Linked DNA regions of Homo sapiens. The protein of the gene in region 2 purifies or fractionates together with the protein of the main gene of each other region. This does not show direct contact. Each region holds a gene or a part of one and is shown on either strand. Other genes may lie near its edges.

Region 1 (3,879 bases), on a different chromosome or scaffold from region 2:
GAACAGGGAAAATGGTATAATATCAGGTATGTGGAAACACTCTCATGGGGAAGAATGCTACTACTTTGAGACAAAGTACCTTAGGTGAGAATATTGTTTTAGTGCTTCTATCTATAGAAGAGTTCTATGGTTCGCCAATAGTTTTTTAAGTTAATCTACTGAAAAGTACAAGTCCACAATCCCTTATCCAACCCCTTGGGCTTATTTGCATTTTGGAATTGTGAATTCTGAAGAATTTTTTAAAGCACCCAATAGCGGTCATAGTCTTATTTAGTGAATACCATAAATAGCTTCAACAATTCAGATCAGGTTTTTCTGCAAAGTGAGAGATGACAATATTCTTTTCAGTTTTTTTAAATTTTAGAATTGCAGGTTAAGAGACTGTGGACCTCTATAAATTCATGTAGGAATAGAAACAAGTCATCCGAAATTTAAGAGACCTTCCCTGAACCATCCCTCTTTTTGAAAAATTTTGACTCTTATATGAGAACCACTGAAAGTTTAAATATTAAAACAATAAATCTTTATTAAACAGTTTTCACGGCATTTTAAAATAAATTTAAAAAATAAATATTTGCATTATAGCAGAAAGTCACATGTATTGCATCAACTCACTTTTACAATTTAATGGCATGAGACAACTAAGCATCAGCACCATAAAACTGTTAAGATTTGTTTCTTAAATTCAAGGAAATAGCTCTAAAGCACTGCAGCATCAATAATTTTGAAAGCTATAACCCAGTGATTGGTGCTCATAGTAGCCAATGTTTCTTTTTATTACTGGCAACTGTGGAGACAGAGTTCTTCCAGTACTAAATATTAATAAGTTCTCTGATCGACAATCCCCCATCTATCAGTGTGTCAGGATTCACAAAGAAAAGAACTGCAGGTTATGTAGTATATTCCCTATCTGTGATTTAGGTTTGCACAAAGACACTTATTCTAGCAAAAAAGAAAAGATAGTGTTTCCACCATGCTACCTTTTTTTTCTTTTTATAGAGTCTCAGAGTAAGATTTAAATCATAATTTTTAACCTTTAAAAGTCTGTTCAAGTTCAATTACAACCATAGAAACTGTACTGGTATCAGAACATAACTATTTTATTACAAAACTTAACATTATTTACAAAATGAAAAAATAATCAAATGACTATTGCAGGCCAAAGTTAAAGGTTTTTCACTCAATGATTGAAGAAAAATTAAGCAATATTTCCATGCACTCACACCAGATCATTTCTGAAATATGCAAACTCTTAAAATTCATGTTAGTAAAACTTTAATGTATTCATAATACTTGCTATGTTTATTAGAAGATGGTCAAAAAAAATCCATGGTTCTGTACAATAATATTAACAGTTTGTTCATTTTCCTTTAATATTTTTTGGCTTCCATGAACACTCGTAGATTGAACATTCTGCAAGTAAGAATTATAATAGTACCTCTGTCACCTTGCTGAATTCATCACCACAAGAAAAACACAAATAGTTTAATGCTTTTGCACTAAACTGAATAGTTATAACTCCAAAGTTATATTAAACTGAAGCCTTCATTGTGATCAATAGCTTGGATCAGTTTAGAGCGTAGAGTTTCTTTTTCTGTATATTTTGGAAGATCCAGAAGATTAAAACAAGTATGGGAAACTGGGAGATACTCCTCACCACCTCCTGTGGACTGGATGACTAGTTTCAGACTCTTCATACCAAGAATAGGAATGCGATCACTACCTGTCAAAAATACTGCCAAGAAAGAAATCATTCAGTCAACCACTTCAAAACAAAAAGATACAGTAGCAAGTAATATTTGGTACAGTCGCTACAGCAGAGCTTCACTTTAACATCTGCTCTAACGTGTTATCTTACTTCCTAATTTGTGGAAGACAAGTTTTTTGAGACACATTCTAATTGCTCATCCACACAATATTTTTTCTTTAAAAGTATAATCTTAATACTGGCACAAAGGAAGTGCTTAATAAATGTTTGATAAGTGAGTATTTTGCCATTGCCAAAACATTTTGAGAGCCCTTTTTTGGAAAAGCCATTCAGAACTAGTTGACAAACCAAATACAAAATGCAGTTTTGATTATGATTTCTTTTTCTATTTGCTTCGTTTCTGTTATTTTTTTTAAATCAGAAATTTATAATGGGCAGCCAAAATTCAAATCATTCTTTTTTTTTTGAGACGAGTCTTGCTCAGTTGCCCAGGCTGGAGTGCAGTGTGCGGTCACAGTCACAGCAGCCTCGACCTCCTGGGCTCAAGCAATCCTCTCTACCTCAGCTTCTGGAGTAGCTGGGAGCACAGTCACCAAGCCCAGGGCTAATTTTTATAGAGATGAGGTTTTGCCATGTTGCCCAGGCTCAAATCACTCTTAAAGAGTAATGATTTCTCATCCTTATGACACACAGAAGAATTTGACCAAGATTCTCGGAGGTTGCCAAATCATTCCTGGCAAAAGCAGGAGTATCAAAGGAAATGTCACCGATTTGGACACATAAATTCTGACAACTTTAAAAATAAGTCAAATTTCAATTAGAATACAGACTTTAACAGAAGAAAGATACACAGGCATCAGTTATAAATGAGGGAACTAAGGCCTGAAAAAGCTTTATTTTATATAGAAATTGCCAAAGTTTTAGTCTTGAAGCAAAAAGAAAAAGAAAAAGAAAATGAAGACCAAACAGAGAAAAGAGCAATACAGTTGGCCCTCCGTATCTGTGAGCTCTGTATCCATGGATTGAACCGACTGCAAATCGAAAATATTTTCAAAAAATGGATGCTTGTGACTGTACTGAATGTGTCAACTGTTTTTCTTGACATTGGTCCCTCAACAATACAGTATAACAACTATTTACATAGCATTTACATTGTATGAGGTATTAATAACATGTACATTCATGTGTCACTTAACGATGATGATATGTTCTGAGAAATGCATCATTAGGTGATTTCATTCTGTAAACATCATATATTTACACAACCTAGACAGTATATAGTCTACTACACACCTAGGCTACATGATATAGCCCTATTGCTCCTAGGCTACAAACCTGTACAGCATGTTACTGTACTGAATTCTGTAGGTAACTGTAACATAACAGTAGGTATTTGTGTATCTAAACATAGAAAAGGTACAGTAGCTGTATTATAATCTTACAGGACCACTATCGTATATATGGTCTGTCATTCACTGAAAAGTCATTATGTGGCACATGACTGTAATCTAGAGAAGATTTAAAGTATAAGGATATGTGTAGGTTATATGCAAATACTATGCCAATTTATACAAGAAACTTGAGCATCTACTGGATTTGGGTATCCTTGGCAGGGAGGTCTTGGAATCAATCCCCCATGTATGCCAAAGGATGACTATACTCCAGAGATCTTTTTAGAAATCTAAAAGGAATTCTACAATCCTAGTTTATTGTAACCACAGTTTATTGTAACTATAACATAGCTATAGTTTGCTTTCATTTCCAAGTTAGCTTCCATTTTACTTCATAGAATGAATCAATGCTATTTTGAAGGCAAACTGAATTTAGCCTTTGAAATAAGAAAATACATGTACTGAAGAGTGCAGATAGTTCTGTTTCAAAAAAATTACTTGAAGATTAAAACAGGGCTTTGGAATAATACTATAATTAGATTCCAGTCTCATAAAGTATACAACTAGTTAGAAATACTTACACAGAAACTGTTTCTTCTTTTCCAATGGTAATTCGTGAAATACTTCCCAAAAAATTTTTATCGTAGGATGTTCTGCCCAATATTCCCCTTTGTATTCTGTATTCTAAAAACAACATAATCTTTTATTAGTATTAAGGGACACACTGGCTAATATATTAGCACATAAAGCTAACATGGTCCAGTAGTTTGCAACTTGTGC
Region 2 (3,731 bases):
GCCCTCTGGGGACAGAGTAATCCAGCAATTTCTGTCTAACTCCCAAATCTTGTCAGTTTGGGCAGATGACTCCTAATCCGTTAGCTACATGAAAGTGATATTCTCCTTCAAGTCAGTTTACTTGTGAGGAAAAGAATTCAAGCTTACAGATGATCTTGGCTTGATGGGTGCTAGACTGGGAAGCTTGGAGACCTTATGATAAACCTTTTGTCTAATTGGATTCTTTGTTTCTTTTGAGACAGAGTCTCCCGCTATTGCCCAGGCAACAGTGGTGCAATCTCAGCTCACAGTAGCCTCCACCTCCCAGGTTCAAGCGATTCTCCTTTCTCAGCCTCCCAAGTAGCTGAGATTATAGGCGCCCACCACCATGCCTGACTAATTTTTATATTTTTAGTAGAGACAGGGTTTCACCGTGTTGGCCAGGCTGGTCTTGAACTCCTGACCTCAATTGATCCACCCACCTCAGCCTCCCAAAGTGCTGGGATTACAGGCGTGAGCTGCTGCGCCCGGCTTCTAATTGGGTTCTGATCCCCTCCTCCAGTCCCCACCCTGGAAAGTAGCTACACTCATCTCATTTGCTGATGATGCGAGAGTGTGATTGGGGTTGGGAAGGTGGTGAGCAGTACAATAGATGTTGTTTGATCCTCTCTGGCCTGACAACACATTTTGTGAGCTACTTGGTGTTCTAATTCTTCCCCCAACTCTCAGATCAAAAGTACAGCCTGTACCATTGATGTACCACTCCCCGTGCAGATAAGATAGTAAACTTAGAAGAAGTCAAGTAGAGACAACCCGTTTCTTTTACACATAGTGTGTTTCTGAAAATGTATTTTTTCTGGAGGTCCAAAATGCAAGTCCATTGATAGTCCTGTGGATTTTTAAGTAAGCTGACCTAATTGCTTACATGTAAACTGAGACCCTCTTGAGAGTAAAAAGGGGCAGGTGTTAACAATGATGCCCAGGCTAGGGGAGTAATCAGGTTGTCCAGGGAGCACCTAAGATACAGGGTACCCTCAGTTATTATATGAGGGAGAGTCCCTTTCCTCAGAGAACTAAAATTATAAGTTAGAAAACAATTACACCTCTACATTTTAGGCATGATAATTGAAAACATTTGGCCGGGCATGGTGGCTCACGCCTGTAATCCTAACACTCTGGAAGGCCAAGGCAAGCGGATCATTTGAGGTCAGGGGTTTGAGACCAGCCTGGCCAACATGGTGAAACCCCTTCTCTACTAAAAATACAAAAATTAGGCCGGTTGCAGTGGCTCACGCCTGTAATCCCAGCACTTTGGGAGGCTGAGGTGGGCAGATCATGAGGTCTGGAGATGGAGACCATCCTGGCCAACATGGTGAAACCCCATCTCTACTAAAAATACAAAAATTAGCTGGGCGTGGTGGCACATGCGTGTAATCCCAGCTACTCAGGAGGCTGAGACAGGAGAATTGCTTGAATTCAGGGGACGGAGGTTGCAGTGAGCCAAGATTGTGCCACCACATTCCAGCCTGGGCAACAGTGAGACTCCATCTCAAAAAAAAAAACAAAAAACATTTTCCAGTATATATATATGTGTATATGTATATGTGTATATATATATATATATATATATATGTGTATATATATATATATTTTTTTTTTTTTTCTTTTTTTTGAGACAGAGTCTTGCTCTGCTCCTTAGGCTGGAGTGCAGTGGCGCGATCACGGTTCATTGGAGCCTCAATCCTACTTCAGCCTCCCGAGCAGCTAGGACTACAGGTGTGCACCACTGCTCCCGGCTGAGTTTTCAATTATAGAGATAGGGTTTCACCATGTTGCCCAGACTGGTCTTGAATTCCTGGGCTCAAGCAATCCTCTGCCCTTGACCACCCAAAGTGCTGGGATTATAGGCGTGAGCCACCGCACCTGGCCTGTTTTTCAGTATTTTATACATGTTCTTTCATTTTGTTTTTTCTTCGCAACTGTACATCCAGTCAACCGAGCCAAGGCCAACAAGCATTCCTTGAGGTGAGAGTTGCGGGCCTGATGTGCCTACTGAGTTCTCTCTGTTCTCAGTTTTATTCAATTTATGAGGCCCATCTTTTGCCCCACAAGTATTTGCAGTAATTTGTCCATTTTCCATGAAAATTTTAAAAATAAAAAGGGCAAAATGCAGCAAAACATCCTCGTAGCTGCCCAGACTTTGCTAGACAAAGCCAGTGAGTGGTTTTGGTCAGCAGGCGGGCCCAGGCCGCAGTTGAGCACCTGTCAGCCGGTGTCGGGCAGGTCAGGTTTGGAGGGAAGGCCTGCGCGGCTGTCCACAGGTGGTTTGGTCAAGGGCAGCCTCAGAAGGTGGCACAGGAAAGGGTGTGCGGGGTGCAGGCCTGACCAGCGATGTTTGCAGATGGACTGCCTCTGGGGGTCAACTTGGGGAAGAACAAGACCTCAGTGGACGCCGCGGAGGACTACGCAGAAGGGGTGCGCGTACTGGGCCCCCTGGCCGACTACCTGGTGGTGAATGTGTCCAGCCCCAACACTGCCGGGCTGCGGAGCCTTCAGGGAAAGGCCGAGCTGCGCCGCCTGCTGACCAAGGTGGGCAGCTGCACCCCTCTCCAGGCCCTGTCCCACCAGCCTGTCCCACCTGCTCCCCTTCATTCTCCAGGGCGAACCTTCAGCATCACCCTCAGAAGCTGTCCTTAGCACCTAGACCAGTAGGACCCCTGGCTATACCTTCCCAGAGTCCCCTCTGATCCCCTCTCATGACACTGATTATATGCGACGGTGACAAATTATCTGTCCCTGCTGCTATAAATCACGGGGTCTGTAAGAGCAGACACCACGTCTCTCTCATTTGTCACTCTGACCCTAGCGCCCAGAGCTCTGAGTGAACTGAAGGACTTCATCACCCAGTACATGTGGTAATATTTCCTGGTTATCTTTTAGGAATAAAAGTCTAAAAAACGTTGGACACCGTGGCTCATGCCTGTAATACCAGCACTATGGGAGGCCAAGGCAGGTGGATCACTTATAACCCAGGAATTTGAGACCAGCCTGGGCAAAAGAGCAAGACCCTGTCTCTACAAAAATTTAAAAATTAGCCAGGCACAGTGGCTCAAGCCTATAGCCCCAGCTACTTGGAGGCCGAGGCAGGCAGATCACTTGAGCTCAGGAGCTGACCAGCCTGGGCAACTTGGCAAAACCCCATCTTACAAGAAATACAGAAATTAGCTGGGCATGGTGGTGCACACCTGTAGTCCCTGATACTCTGGAGGCTGAAGTGGAAGGATCGCCTGAGCCCAGGGAGGTGCAGGCTACAGTGAGCCGTGATCATGCTACTACACTCCAGTGTGGGTGACAGAGTGCGACCTTGTCTCAAAAAAAAAAAAAAAAAAAGAAAAGAAAAGTCTAAAACACCCTTGAGCTATTAGCCAATGTCCACGGGATCCCTTGGCCTAAAAGAATGGAATCGGATCCATCTCGACTGTACTCCTCACGTCTGAGGGCTGGCTTTCCTGAAAAGAAATTGTTTCTGCTTTAGTTTGATCGCTATTGTGGAAACCCACTGACCTGCAGCGTAGGTCACAGCTGCACTGCAGGGCTGTGGTCTGCGGGGTCCCCAGCTCTGGCCGTGTGTCGCCCTAGGTGCTGCAGGAGAGGGATGGCTTGCGGAGAGTGCACAGGCCGGCAGTCCTGGTGAAGATCGCTCCTGACCTCACCAGCCAGGATAAGGAGGACATTGCCAGTGTGGTCAAAGA
Region 3 (3,463 bases), on a different chromosome or scaffold from region 2:
AGTATTTATAACAATAATATTTTATGGGGCGCTTATAATGTTTATAATATTGTAAACCACTGTGTACTCTATTCATTTAATGCTAAATGACTTGACCATTCTTGTGGGATAAGAGATCATTAAAAAAATGCTAGGGCCGGGCACCATGGCTCACGCCTGTAATCCCAGGACTTTAGGAGGCCAAGGCAGGTGGATGACTTGAGCTCAGGAGTTTGAGACCAGCCTGGGCAACATGATGAAAACTCCGTCTCTACCAAAAATCAAAAAAATTAGCCAGGTGTGATGTTGTGTGCCTGTAGTCCCAGCTACTTGTGAGGCTGAGGTGGGAGGATGGTTTGGGCCCCGGAGGTAGAGGTTGCAGTGAGCTGAGATTGTGCCACTGTATTCCATCCTGGGCAACAGAGCCAGACCCTGCCTCAAAAAAAAAAAAAAAAAAAAAAAAGGCCTGGCACAGTGGCTCACGCCTGTAATCCCAGCACTTTGGGAGGCTGAGGCGGGCAAAACACTTGAGGTCAGACGTTTGAGACCAGCCTGGCCAACATGGTGAAACCCCGTCTCTACCAAAAATAAAAATAAAAATTATCCAGGCGTGGTGGCATGTGCCTATAGCCCCAGCTACTCAGGAAGCTAAAGCACGAGAATTATGTGCATCCTGGAGGTGAAGGTTGCAGTGAGCCAAGATCACACCACTCCACTCCAGTCTGGACAACAGAGTGAGACCCTGTGTCAAAAAAAAAAAAAAGAAAGAAAGAAAGAAAAAATGCTTTATGGCCCAGTGCAGTGGCTCACACCTATAATCCTAGCACTTTGGGAGGCTAAGGCAGGAGGATTGCTTGAGGCCAAGAGTTCAAAACAAGCCTGGGCAACATTGCAAGACCCCAACTCTACAAAAAACGAAAAATTAGCCGGGAGCGGTGATGTGTGCCTGTAGTCCCAGCTACTCAGGAGACTGAGGTGGGAGAATCACTTGAGCCTGGGAGGTTGAGGCTGCAGTGAGCTGTGTTTATACCACTGCACTCCAGCCTGCTGGGTAACAGAGCAAGACTCCATCTCAAAAAGAAAAGAAAAAATGCTTTGCTACATAATGAGGCCAGGCAAAAAAAAAAAAGTCCTGTGGAAATCATATAGACAAACATTTGCAAAGCTGCTACTGCCATTGTACCAGTGTTAAACTGTGTTCTACCTTGCATCTTTTACTGATTTTTATGACAGATTTTATATTGTAACCATTCGAGAACTCTGTAAGTGCTATGGCTTCCTTAAACTACGATTTATCATATGCTCCCGGTGTTTACTTTGAGACTGAATGGCAACCAGAGAATGTAAACAACCAAGGTGCATCTGGTTATGTTTTAAAATAAAGATTAATAAAAGTTTTGGTTTTTCTCTTTCTAACCTTCTTTTTAAACTAGAAATATAATACCTATAGAAAAGTAAATGTTGGCCGGGTGCGGTGGCTCATGCCTATAATCCCAGCACTTTGGGAGGCCGAGGCAGGCAGATCACCTGAGGTCAAGAGTTCGAGACCAGTCTGGCCAACATGGTGAAACCCTGTCTCTACTAAAAATACAAAAATTAGCCGGGCATAGTGGCAGACACCTGTAATCCCAGCTACTGGGAAGGCTGAGCCAGAATGGCTTGAACCTGGGAGGCAGAGGTTGCAGTGAGCCGAGATCGCCCCATTGCACTCCAGCTTGAGCAACAAGAGCGAAACTGTCTCAAAAAAAAAAAAAAAGTATATGTTAAGTATAGAAAAATATATAAATTAAAAAATTATAGGCTTGGGGGCCAGGCACAGTGGCTCACACCTGTAATCCCAGCACTTTGGGAGGCCGAGGTGGGTGTATCACTTGAGGTCAGGAGTTTGAGACCAGCCTGGCCAACATGGTGAAACCCCGTCTCTACCAAAAAAAATATATAAAAATTATCTGGGTGTGGTGGCATGTGCCTATAGTCTCAGCTTCTCAGAAGACTGAGGCGTGAGAATCACTTGAACGATGGAAGTGGAGGTTGCAGTGAGCTGAGATCACACTACTGCACTACAGTCTGGGCAACAGAGTGAGACCTTGTCTCAAAAAAAAAAGAAAGAAAAAGAAAAATGCTTTATGGCCCAGTGCAGTGGCTCACACCTATAATCCTAGCACTTTGGGAGGCTAAGGCAGGAGGTTCGCTTGAGGCCAAGAGTTCAAAACAAGCCTGGGCAACACTGCAAGACCCCAACTCTACAAAAAACGAAAAATTAGCCGGGAGCGGTGATGTGTGCCTGTAGTCCCAGCTACTCAGGAGACTGAGGTGGAAGAATCACTTGAGCCCGGGAGGTTGAGGCTGCAGTGAGCTGTGTTTATACCACTGCACTCCAGCCTGCTGGGTAACAGAGCAAGACTCCATCTCAAAAAGAAAAGAAAAAATGCTTTGCTACATAATGAGGCCAGGCAAAAAAAAAAAGTCCTGTGGAAATCATATAGACAAACATTTGCAAAGCTGCTACTGCCATTGTACCAGTGTTAAAATGTGTTCTACCTTGCATCTTTTACTGATTTTTATGACAGATTTTATATTGTAACCATTTGAGAACTCTGTAAGTGCTATGGCTTCCTTAAACTACGATTTATCATATGCTCCCAGTGTTTACTTTGAGACTGAATGGCAACCAGAGAATGTAAACAACCAAGGTGCATCTGGTTATGTTTTAAAATAAAGATTAATAAAAGTTTTGGTTTTTCTCTTTCTAACCTTCTTTTTAAACTAGAAATATAATACCTATAGAAAAGTAAATGTTGGCCGGGTGCGGTGGCTCATGCCTATAATCCCAGCACTTTGGGAGGCCGAGGCAGGCAGATCACCTGAGGTCAAGAGTTCGAGACCAGTCTGGCCAACATGGTGAAACCCTGTCTCTACTAAAAATACAAAAATTAGCCGGGCATAGTGGCAGACACCTGTAATCCCAGCTACTGGGAAGGCTGAGCCAGAATGGCTTGAACCTGGGAGGCAAAGGTTGCAGTGAGCCGAGATCGCCCCATTGTACTCCAGCTTGAGCAACAAGAGCGAAACTGTCTCAAAAAAAAAAAAAGTATATGTTAAGTATAGAAAAATATATAAATTAAAAAATTATAGGCTTGGGGGCCAGGCACAGTGGCTCACACCTGTAATCCCAGCACTTTGGGAGGCTGAGGTGGGAGGATCACTTGAGGCCAAGAGTTTGAAACCAGTATGGGCAACATTGCAAGACCCTGTCTCTACAAAAAACAAAAAATTAGCCGGGCATGGTGGCATGTGCCTGTAGTCCCAGCTACTCGGGAGACTGAGGTGGGAGAATCACTTGAGTCCAGGAGGTTGAGGCTCCAGCGAGCAGTGTTCATACCACCTGCACTCCAGCCTGCTGGGTGACAGAGCAAGATGCTGTCTCAAAAAAAAAAAAAAAAAAAAAAGAAAGAAAAAAGAAAAATGCTTTGCTATATAACGA

Evidence for each region.
Region 1: the proteins of DHODH (region 2) and HERC4 purify together in Homo sapiens (affinity purification with western blotting; one study listed by BioGRID). This does not show direct contact.
Region 3: the proteins of DHODH (region 2) and PRR11 purify together in Homo sapiens (affinity purification with western blotting; one study listed by BioGRID). This does not show direct contact.

Annotation. Positions count from the first base shown.
Region 1 is NC_000010.11:67,921,405-67,925,283, forward strand, and holds the end of HERC4 (probable E3 ubiquitin-protein ligase HERC4), read right to left. Parts: intron 3,784-3,879; coding exon 3,681-3,783; intron 1,736-3,680; coding exon 1,527-1,735; 3' UTR 501-1,526; downstream 1-500. UniProt on the Homo sapiens protein: Probable E3 ubiquitin-protein ligase involved in either protein trafficking or in the distribution of cellular structures. Required for spermatozoon maturation and fertility, and for the removal of the cytoplasmic droplet of the spermatozoon.
Region 2 is NC_000016.10:72,018,744-72,022,474, forward strand, and holds part of DHODH (dihydroorotate dehydrogenase (quinone), mitochondrial), read left to right. Parts: intron 1-2,380; coding exon 2,381-2,568; intron 2,569-3,618; coding exon 3,619-3,731. UniProt on the Homo sapiens protein: Catalyzes the conversion of dihydroorotate to orotate with quinone as electron acceptor. Required for UMP biosynthesis via de novo pathway.
Region 3 is NC_000017.11:59,203,978-59,207,440, forward strand, and holds the end of PRR11 (proline-rich protein 11), read left to right. Parts: 3' UTR 1-2,732; downstream 2,733-3,463. UniProt on the Homo sapiens protein: Plays a critical role in cell cycle progression.